2 separate regions of the Homo sapiens genome follow, and region 2 is linked to region 1. Evidence: fine-mapped expression QTL. Tissue or cell type: whole blood. Region 1 holds a variant in brackets; the other region holds the start of a gene. All regions are shown on one strand. Distances are between the middles of the regions.

Region 1 (5,198 bases):
CCCGCGTCCTGGTCGCCGCCCGGCGGGAAGGCGCTGCCCTGGGCGCCCGTGCAGCATCAGCGCCACCTCCTGGTGCACGCGGGGTGGTGCGGTCGGTGCTCCAGCCGAAAGCCCCACGTCCTTGGGGCCCAGGCGAGCCATTACCCTGGTTTAGGGTTAGTGCCTCACCTAGGAGTTGTGAACAGTGTGCGTATTTTCTAAAAATCAAGTAAGCAAGTTAAAAATTGCTCAAAATCTAAATTTTACAATGAAGATTCAAGCCTACTTTTTAGGTAAAGCTTTCAAGCCCCCTAAGTCCTTCCAGGCAGGAGTGCACGGATGGTGAGCACCCCCACCCCACCCCAGGACAGATGTGAGTCACGTCGTATGTGTTTGCTGATTGCAGATACGGGACGTGCAGGAAACACTGATGCCCCAGGTCCTGACCACCCTGGAGGAGGATTCGAAGATGACGCGACTGATCTCATGCCGTATTATCAACACGTTCTTAAAAACCTCGGGCGGCATGACGGATCCAGAGAAACTCATCAGGATTTATCCTGGTAGGACATTTCTGTTGTTCACAGCCTGTGTATATGCAGTCAGCCCTCCGTGTCCCTGGGTTCCGTTTGCATCCATGGAGTCACCCAAACTCAGATCAAAACTATCTCGGGCTGGGTGTGGTGGTTCACACCTTTAATTCCAGCACTTTAGGCAGGAGGGTTGCTTGAGCCCAGGAATTTGAGACCAGCCTGGGCAACATAGCCATACCCCGATCTCAACAAAAAATTTAAAAATTAGCCAGGGCTGGTGGCACACACCTGTAGTCCCAGCTACTCAGGAAGCTGAGGCAGGAGGATCGCTTGAGCCCAGCCTGGGCAACAGACCAAAACCTTGTCTTTAAAAGTAGGGGTGTGTGTGTGTGTGTGTGTGTGTGTGTATGGCTACATATATACATGTTTGTGCATTTATACATACAAATACAAATTTGTACTTACATTTGCATATATAAATATGTATGTATTGGGGGGCAGAATTCCACAGTTCCAAAAAGCAAAGCTTGAATTTGTTGGGCACCAAGTACAACGTTGAACCCGCATGAAGAAAGCATCATGTACACATTGCATTCGGCCTTAAAACAACATTGGACCCTCGTGAAGGAAGCGTCGTGTGGACGTTGCGTTCTGCCTTAAAACAACGTTGAACCCACGTGAAGGAAGCGTCGTGTGGATGTTACATTTAGCGTTAAACGTAATCTAGAGACAGTTTAAGGTGTGCCGGAAGATGTGTGTGGGTCATGTGCAAATACTATGCCTTTTTTTATCAGAGACTTGAGCATTTGAGGATTTTGGTATCCTAGAGGAGGAGGATTCCTGGAACCAAACCCCACAGATACCAAGGGACGACTGTATTTAAGTTTGATGGTGGCTTGTTTTATAGAAAAAAAGCAGAAAACGTGGCCGGGCACGGTGGCTCACGCCTGTAATCCCAGCACTTTGGGAGGCTGAGGCAGGTGGATCACAAAGTCAAGAGATAGAAACCATCCTGGCCAAAATGGTGACCCTGTCTCTACTAAAAATAAAAAAATTAGCTGGACATGGTGGTGCGCGCCTGTAGTTCCAGCTACTCAGGAGGCTGAGGCAAGAGAATCGCTTCAACTCAGGAGGTGGAGGTTGCAGTGAGCCAAGATCGCACCATTGCACTCCAGCCTGGGTGACAGAGCCAGACTCCATCTCAAAAAAAAAAGAAAATAGAAAATGCTCATCTTTGACTTCTGTTCAAGTTGGTACTATGAGAACAAACAGCAATGACAGATGAAATACCACAAATTAAACGGCACAGCAAGAAGCAAGGCAGAGGTCTCCAAACCAGCACTGGGTGGGGGTGACAAGGCTCAGCTTCCACGCGGCCGGGAAGGGGGACCTCAGGGTGGGGCGGCTGGAGCTGCCTGTGGGGAGACGGGGCCGGGCCACCCTGCAGCAGGACCAGGGGCACAGCCTCAGTGTCGCCGCCTCCTGGAGCCCAAACCCCAGACCAACCCCAGGTGAGAGCAAGCACTGGGGAGGGGAATGGGGTGGTTGGCTTGAAGCCCCCGAAAAGCAGCAGCACTGAACAGAGTCATGAATTCAGAGAGCCCCTCACTCAGGGCAGCCTGCACACAAACCCCTCAGGACAGGGCCCCCGCCACCCAGGCCATGGGCCAGTACCTGTCCGGGTCCTGTTAGGAACCAGACTGCACAGCAGGAGGTGAGAGGTGGGC[A/G]AGCGAAACTTCATCTGTGTTTACGGCTGCTCCCCATCTTTTGCATTACCACCTGAGCTCTGCCTCCTGTCAGATCGGCAACGGCATTAGATTCTCATAGGAGCACAAATCCTATTGTGAACTGTGCACGCGAGGGATCCAAGCTGACGCTCCTTATGAAACTAATGCCTGATGATCCGTCACTGTCTCCCATCGTCCCCACATGGGACCGTCTAGTTGCAGGAAAACAAGCTCAGGCCCCCACTGATTCTACAGGATGATGAGTTGTAGAATTATCTCATTATATGTTACAATGTAGTCATAGAAATAACGTGTACAATAAACGTAACGCACGTGACTCATCCTGAAACCATCTCACCCCCTGGTCCATGGAAAATTGTCTTCCATGAAACCAGCCCCTGGTGCCAAAAAGGTTGGGGACTGCTACCTCAGAACACCGAAGACCCGGCGCTAAGGGCAGCCTCGCACCCAGCCCGGGAAGGAAGTGCCGATAATAGAACCACCTCAAAGTTACCTTTATTGAGGCGTGTTTAAGATCCTCAAAAAGCTAAAAGAACAACATCCACTAAAAAACAAGTTGAGAAACAAGAAGACAAGCAGGAATAAAGAACAGATGGAAACGGAAGCGATCGCTGGGAAGTCCGGAGTGACACGGAATGGTGTGCTGGCACTACTTTGAGGAAAGGAGTTACCCAGCGAGGGAGAAAGGGGATGGGGTGGGCGGGAAGCGGCCACTCAGGCGTTCCTGATTAGCTCTACTTAATGTGATTATCTATATTTTGTGTATTTATGCCAGAAATGTTTAGCAGTTTTTAAAAGATGGTTCTTGCTAATTCCCGGAAATGAATGGAGTCATCGGAACTTCACACTCTGTGTACTGGGTCAACTCTAGACTGAATGTGGCTGAAAACAAAGTTAGTGACGTGAAAGCCAGGAATGTGGAATTCCTCAAGATCACGAGACAGAGAGGGGTGCAAGGCCTGGAGTGGGCGAAGGACACGGGACGGGGAGGGACGCGGGGCCTGGAGCGGGCAGAGGACACGGGATGGAGAGAGGTGCCGAGTGGGCCGAGAGGCTCCCGGGCTTTTCTGAATCCCAGGAGAAGAGAATGGAGGAGAGATGGTGCCTCAGAATCTTCCAGAACTGGAGACAGACATGAATTTTCAGATTCACAGTACACACGGCGCTGGGCAGAAAAACCGCCGCCTGCTGAACTCTGAGGTCCGGGGGCCTTTGTCACTCATTCTCTCACCTTTGCTTTTCTGTTTTTATTCTTTAGTAACAAACATCCTGTTCCCACTGACTCTGGAACAAGTTCAGTCCATGCGATTGTTGGGAATTCACTCACTTTTTAAAACAGGAGCTGGCGGAAAGGCTGCACGCGTTTGGGCATCTGAGCGCATTTGGGCATCTGGGCCACGGCCCCCTGTTTATTTTCACTACAAAAGGTTCCTTGAGAGGCCCCTTGCCTATTAGTGCCAGCTCTGGGCTTCCCAGGGTGAAGTGTTGGATGAATCATGGCCTCCTTGGTGGGGAAGGAAGGATGTCCTGAGTTGGGAGCACAGACATCCAGGCCTCCCAGGACAGACAGACACAAACATGAACAGCAGACAGGCCAGCGTGAGCCGATTCTGCCTGGCTTAGTCGTGCATGAAAGGAACCCTAAACTGGTACAAAAGTGGACCTGCAGGCCATCCAGGGAGTGACCATCGTAAAAACACAATAGCCAGTGCCACTCTGTGTACTTCCATAGTCGACCGCGCCAGCAGGAGGCCTCGGAGGATCCTGTCCGGGCCCATAGATGTTTGCTAGCGGGACAAGCTTGGGTGAGTTGAGCATCTGACTCCGTCCTTCCTCCTGAGACACGTGCAGCGAGGGCACCCACTGTGCAGCGAGGGCTCCCGCCGTGCAGTGAGCATACCCCCTGTGCAGTGAGGGCACCTGCCGTGCAGTGAGCATACCCCCCATGCAGCAAAAGCACCCCCCATGCAGCGAGGGCTCCCGCTGTGCAGTGAGCATACCCGCTGTGCAGTGAGGGCACCTGCCGTGCAGGGCTGCTTCAGGGTTTGGCACCATAATGCCTGGATGTGCTCCGTGGCTTCCTCCTTGGTGCCTGTGTTTGGTGGCTGGAAGGCCCAGCACCCTCAGGGCCCAGAACCCTCAGGGAAGTGCCTGGGCATCTGCCAGGAATTAACCCACTGGGTCCCACTTGTCTCAAAGCCTGGCTTGGTAGGATGGCCTGAACTTTGGATGTTTTTCATGCCTTTCGTTACATAGGATCCTCTTGCTGAGGGTGGATCATGCCCTCCACATTGCAAAAGCATCAGAGACCCAGCCCACCCTCGCGTCTGCAGCGGGAAGATGGGCCTGGTGCCAGGCGCGGGCAGCCGCCCCTCCCAGCGTCGGGAAGATGGGCCTCATGCCAGGCATGGGCAGCTGCCCCTCCCAGCGTCGGGAAGATGGGCCTCCGGGTGGTTTTGCGACTCAGTCATCTGCGAATTTCCGGATGCTGCACAGAAGGGGGTGCCAAAGTTTTTTTAAGATGATGTAAAAAAAGCATAAATTTGATAAAAATTATGTCCATTAACCTCATAAGTTTCTACCCATCGGGAAGGATCATCCTTCTGTTTTCAGCAGCAGAAAACTGACCACAGTAGGGGGTTGTCTGTCACTGAGTCCTCAGCTCTGGTGGGAGGGCAGGGTCAGAGCTGGGCAGGGTGGCCAGCTCGGGGATCTGAGCATCTGGGAGCAGGAGGTGGAGGGCCAGGTGAGCACACAGCTGCGAGGAGGTGGAGGACCAGGTGAGCACACAGCTACAGCTACAGGGAGGCTCTGCGCCTGCAGGACAGGTTATTACAGGGGCCGCAGCAGGGCCTGGGCCGCCTCCACTCTGTTGGCTGGGGTTCAGGGGTCCCAGGTCGCCAGGAGCACCTTGCATGTGGCTCGGGATGCACGGAGT
Region 2 (5,128 bases), 51 kb before region 1:
AAAAGTGAAGTCCCACCACCGTAATTCAAGCGCTTATTCTTTCTCGTCTTCAGCACTCACTGCCACAGCCTTCCCAGGGCTCCCGACCAATCCGTTCAACGGAAGCCAAAGGGGTCCTTGAAAAATGCAGACTCGATCTTGCCAATGCTCCCACCTTGAAATCCTCAGTCTGCCATGTTTTAGGACAGAGGCCCCCATGGCCTGGCCCCACCCATCTGCTCACTCCCTGCCTGCTCCCCTGTGACCAGGGTCAGCCTCCCTCCCTGTTTGCTACCTGAGGCTGCCGTAACAAAGCACACCAGGCTGGGCAGCTGAATGAAACAAATTTGATTTCTCAAGATCAGGGTACGGGCTGGCTCCTCTTGAGGTCTCTCTTCATGCTCATACTGCATTCTCCCTGTATGCACGTCTATCTCCAAAATTTCTCCTTTTATGAGGACAGCAGTCATATTGGATGAGTGCCCAACCTCATGACCTCATCTCACCTCAATCACGTCTGCAAAGACCTTGTCTCCAAACAGGATCACTTCCTGAACTATGGGGGTTAGGACTTCAGCATATGAATTTTGGGGAGACGCCATTCAGCCCGTAACACTCCCATGAGGCCTTTGCTCATGCTATTTCCTCTCTCTCCAACACTCCCCGTCTCCCACCTCCGCCCTTTCACCTGGCTATGTGACATGGTTTGGCTGTGTCCCCACCCAAATCTCATCTTGAATTGTAGCTCCCACAATTCCCACGTGTTGTGGGAAGGACCCAGTGGGAGGTAACTGAATAATGGGGGCAGGTCTTTCCTGTGCTGTTCCTATGATGGTGAATAAGTCTCACGAGATCTGACGGTTTTATAAGGGGGAGTTTCCCTGCACAGGCTCTCTCATTTTCTCTTTGCCTGCTGCCATCATGTAAGATGTGACTTGCTCCTTCCCGCCTTCGGCCATCATTGTGAGGCCTCCCCAGCCATGTGGAACTGTGAGTCCAGTAAACCTTTCCCTGTATAAGTTACCCAGTCTCGGCCATGTCTTTATTAGCAGCGTGAAAATGGACTAATACACTGTGTTTACTTATTCTTCATATTTCACCTCTGCTACCATTTGTTCAGGGAAGCCTTAAAAGTCTAGTTCAACATCCCTTGACACTCATTCTCTCAGGACCACCACGGTTAAACACATACTAATTTATCCTTCCATTAAGGGCTATCTCATCCTGCAAGACCCTAAGATCTGGGAGAGCAGGGACCATGGCCAGTTTCTACATCATTGTCATCCTGTCCCACATGTTGCAGACAGTGCCTGGTCAAACAAATGCCTGTTGGAGGAAACAATGAATGAAGGTTACTGAATATGCTACATAACAACTTTTCAGAAGTACTGATGGGCCGGGCGTGGTGGCTCACGCCTGTAATCCCAGCACTCTGGGAGGCTGAGGCGGGCGGATCACGAGGTCAGGACATCGAGACCATCCTGGCTAACACAGTGAAACCCCGTCTCTACTAAAAATACAAAAAATTAGCTGGGCGTGGTCGTGGGCACCTGCAGTCCCAGCTACTTGGGAGGCTGAGGCAGGAGAATGGCATGAACCTGGGAGGCAGAGTCTGCAGTGAGCGGAGATCGCGCCACTGCACTCCAGGCTGGGCGACAGAGCAAGATTCCATCTCAAAAAAAAAAAAAAAAGACGTACCGACAAACACCACCATTTTGCAACACGAAGATCAACAACAAAAAAGAAGGTCAAACTTGAAGTTCTGTCCTAAAATTACACACATTCTGCCTTTAGAAAACTCAGTGCATGGTCACAGATGAGAAGTGCCTGGCTAACCAGACTTGGGGACTCCTGGTTTGCAGTGAGTGCTGTCAAACTCGCGTTCTAGGCTGGGCTCACAGCAACTCCGACTCCAAGCTGTTTAGGCGCCTCTGTCTCCACTCAAGTCCACAGTCAAGGTCACTACTGTGAAACACTGTCTTGCTTTTAATTTCCAAGCTGCCTTGTTATTTCTTGGGAGTAGGCCAAGCTAACTTTAGGAGGAACTTAGTTTATAGTTTAACTTTGAAACAAAGATGATAACAGCCCTTTCCTGAAGCCAACCTCCTTCTTGCCTGGGGACCAGAATGCTTTTGTAAGACTAACACATGAGCCACAAGATTAGAAATTGTGGTTTGAGTCATGCAGCTAGAGGCCACAAGATTCCAAACCTCCCCAGTTGCTCCTTAGGATAACACCACTATCATCAACTCTAAGATTGGTGCTCAAGATATTTTTCAGGCTCTGCATTCTGATGCACCAGGTGCCACCACCCACACCACTAATCTGGCTCAACCAGTTCTGTGATCCCACCCAGGAACAGAAGACAGCAAGAGAATCAACTTTGACTCTCCATGGTTTCATCTCCAACCCGACCAATAAGCACTGCCCTCTCCCTGGCCCCCTACCTGCCTAATTATCCTTAGATGACCCATCTCAGGATTTTCAGAACCTGGTTTGAGCAATAAAGCTCCAGTGTCCTTTAGCCAGTTTCTGCATGCAGCCAGTTTCTGCATGCAGCCAGTTTCTGCATGCATTAAACTCTCTATTGCAATTCCCCTGTCTTGATAAATTGGCTCTACCTGGGCAGCGAGTAAGGCGAACCTATTGGGCGGCTACGCCTGAGATCTAATGACAGGCTGCACGTGAAGCCCAGACCAGGCACCTGTCTTACACCACAGGGGGATCCAGTCCACAGAACCAGCGTCCTTCCCTCCTGGAACGGACCTTCCCAAAGCCAGAGGGGCTCTAGGCGGCTCAAACAGGGGCTTCCCGGCTACCCTGGTCCCAGGCGGGACCACTCAGGTTCCTTCTCCAAGCCCCCTAGGCTGCAGGGCAGGCTTCCCTAGGGGCAGGCCCAGGCCTATAGCCCGGGACCCGCATCCCGGGCGAGCTGCACCCTCCCGAGACCTTCCCCATCTGTACAATGGGGACAGGACAAGGCCCAGCAGGCAGGCTGGCGGGGGTTCCGGCGACAGAGGGGGACAGCGGGCGAGCACGACAAGAGCACAGGCCCACGTGCGCACCGGCGGGGAGGAAGTAGCCCGGCGCCCCGCCCGCAGCGCGGACCGGAAGTGCTGCCGTAATCTGCGCTGAGAGTCGCGAAAGCGCTGTTCCCCTTAGTGACCGGCGACGCGGGCAAGATGGCGGCGCTGGGGGTGGCGGAGGCCGTGGCGGCCCCACACCCGGCTGAGGGGGCCGAGACGGCTGAGGCGGTGGAGCTGAGCCGCGCCCTGAGCCGCCTGCTGCCGGGGCTGGAGGCCGACAGCAAGCCGGGCCGGCGGCGCGCCTTGGAGGCCCTGCGGCGCGCGCTGGAGGAGCCAGGCCCTGCCGCCGACCCCACCGCTTTCCAGGGCCCCTGGGCGCGCCTACTGCTGCCGCGCTTGCTGCGCTGCCTGAGCGACCCCGCCGAGGGCTGCCGCGCGCTGGCAGTGCACCTGCTGGATCTGGGCCTGCGCCGCGCCGCGCGGCCCCGCGATGCCCTGCCGCGCCTGCTGCCCGCGCTCGCCGCGCGCTTGGCCGGCCCCGTGCCCGCGCGCCGCCCGCCCGAGGCCTGTGAGGAGCTGCGCCTGGCGCTTGTGCAGCTGCTGGGCCTGGCCGTGGACCTGTGCGGCGCCGCGCTCGCGCCCCACCTGGACGACGCTCTGCGCGCGCTGCGCTGCTCCCTGCTCGACCCCTTCGCCGCCGTGCGCCGCGAGAGCTGCAGCTGCGCCGCCGCCCTGGCGCAGGCCACGCCCGGTGAGCACCCCGGGCCCCGCTCCCACACGCCACCCCACACTCTCACCCCCACCTCCACCTCCGCGGCCCCTCTCACAACCCCCGCGGCTCGGCCCCGCCCCCCTCCACGCCCGCACCCCCCAACATCCCGGACCCCCCATGCGCCGCTTCCCCCACCCGCCTGCCCCAAAGCACCCCGCCCGGCCCCCTCCTCCCACCACCACTGCTTCCCCTGCCTCACGTCCCGCCACCAACGCGCCCTTCAGCTGCTCCCTTGTCCTCTACCCCCATGTACCTGTTTCCTGCGCTGCCACGTGCTCCTTGCCCCGTGACCCCTGTTCCTGCTTGGCCCTCACTCACCTCACTCCCCTGTCCCCTTGCTCCCCGCCTCCACCCTCCACGCCCCAAGCCCCGCCCCCCACCTGCCTGCTCCCTGTGCCCCCTCCACCTGCCTATCCTGTGCCATCCTCCTCCTTGCACGCCGCCCTCCCGCGACCCTCACCTCCCACCCTCCTCCCTGCCTGAGCCCCCTCCACCCCACCCGGGCCCACGAGCCAGCGCTTCTGTCCAGATACCTGGAAACCACCGCAGAAATTCCTGTTAGGCGGTTTGGGGTGGGGTGTGCCCTGATAGCTGCCCCCTTTCCTTCCCTCGGGGGCTTGCAGGACTTGCACCTGGTTGAGGGCACGCGCTTTGAGACTCTGCTCTGGTCATTTCACTTTCTGTCCCATTCATCCTACTCCCCTGCCTTTCCGCTCTGGCTTGGACCACTGTCCTAAGTGGAAGGAGGCCGCTTCTCCCCTCCACTTTATAACGTTCCCCATCTTTTTTAGAGCTCTGATCTGATCCGGTCGTTCCCTTTCCTTAGCTGGCCATTCCTGCAGGGTCTTGCCCTTTCCCTCCCCTGGCTGGGATGTGGAATGATAGCAGGCGCCTGCTTCCTGCTGGCGGGAAGGCTTTCCGAAGGAGGGAACACTGATGCTATAAATCCGTGGGCGGTAGGGAGCAGGAAAGCAGTGAGGGATCTGGCCAGCTCAGGCCGTCCCAGTGATGTCCCAGTGATGGTCTGAATGTAGTGGGAAGTGCAGGGGGTGTCAATAGAAGTGATAGACCCGAGTTCAGGTTGTTAAAAGATCACTGCAGCTGCGTGGAGAATAGATTCCAGAAGTAGAGGAAGAGCTGGACTTGGGGAAATGCCGAGATTTCCACGTTGGTTAACTTTGGATTTCACATGGTCCAGAACTCCTGTGGAGCTTGGGGAAGAACCTTGGGCTGGATGGACATGGCCATTGAGAATTCCTGGCATTTAATGTATTTCTTCTTCATCCTCAACCACTTCCCTACCCAGTCTGTACATCAGCCCCACGAGCTCCCTCCCTGGACCGTAGGTTCC

What was found. PIP is the estimated chance that this variant, and not a neighbour inherited with it, causes the effect.
Region 2: DNAAF5 starts here. The variant in region 1 is fine-mapped to the expression of DNAAF5 in whole blood (TOPMed, PIP 0.96).

Annotation. Positions count from the first base shown.
Region 1 is chr7:774,621-779,818 of GRCh38, forward strand. It overlaps DNAAF5 (dynein axonemal assembly factor 5), which reads left to right. Exons shown (of 13, transcript NM_017802.4): 11 at 386-542. Among named protein-coding and RNA genes, the nearest start is that of PRKAR1B, 50 kb to the left of the region's middle. The variant A/G (reference allele first, on the strand shown) is at 2,240.
Region 2 is chr7:723,560-728,687 of GRCh38, forward strand. DNAAF5 (dynein axonemal assembly factor 5) reads left to right here and starts at 3,140. Exons shown (of 13, transcript NM_017802.4): 1 at 3,140-3,756. The coding sequence starts at 3,162. PRKAR1B (protein kinase cAMP-dependent type I regulatory subunit beta) reads right to left here and starts at 3,722. Exons shown (of 11, transcript NM_001164760.2): 1 at 3,651-3,722. RefSeq lists silencers at 3,213-3,412, 3,663-3,712, 3,773-3,882, 3,923-4,002.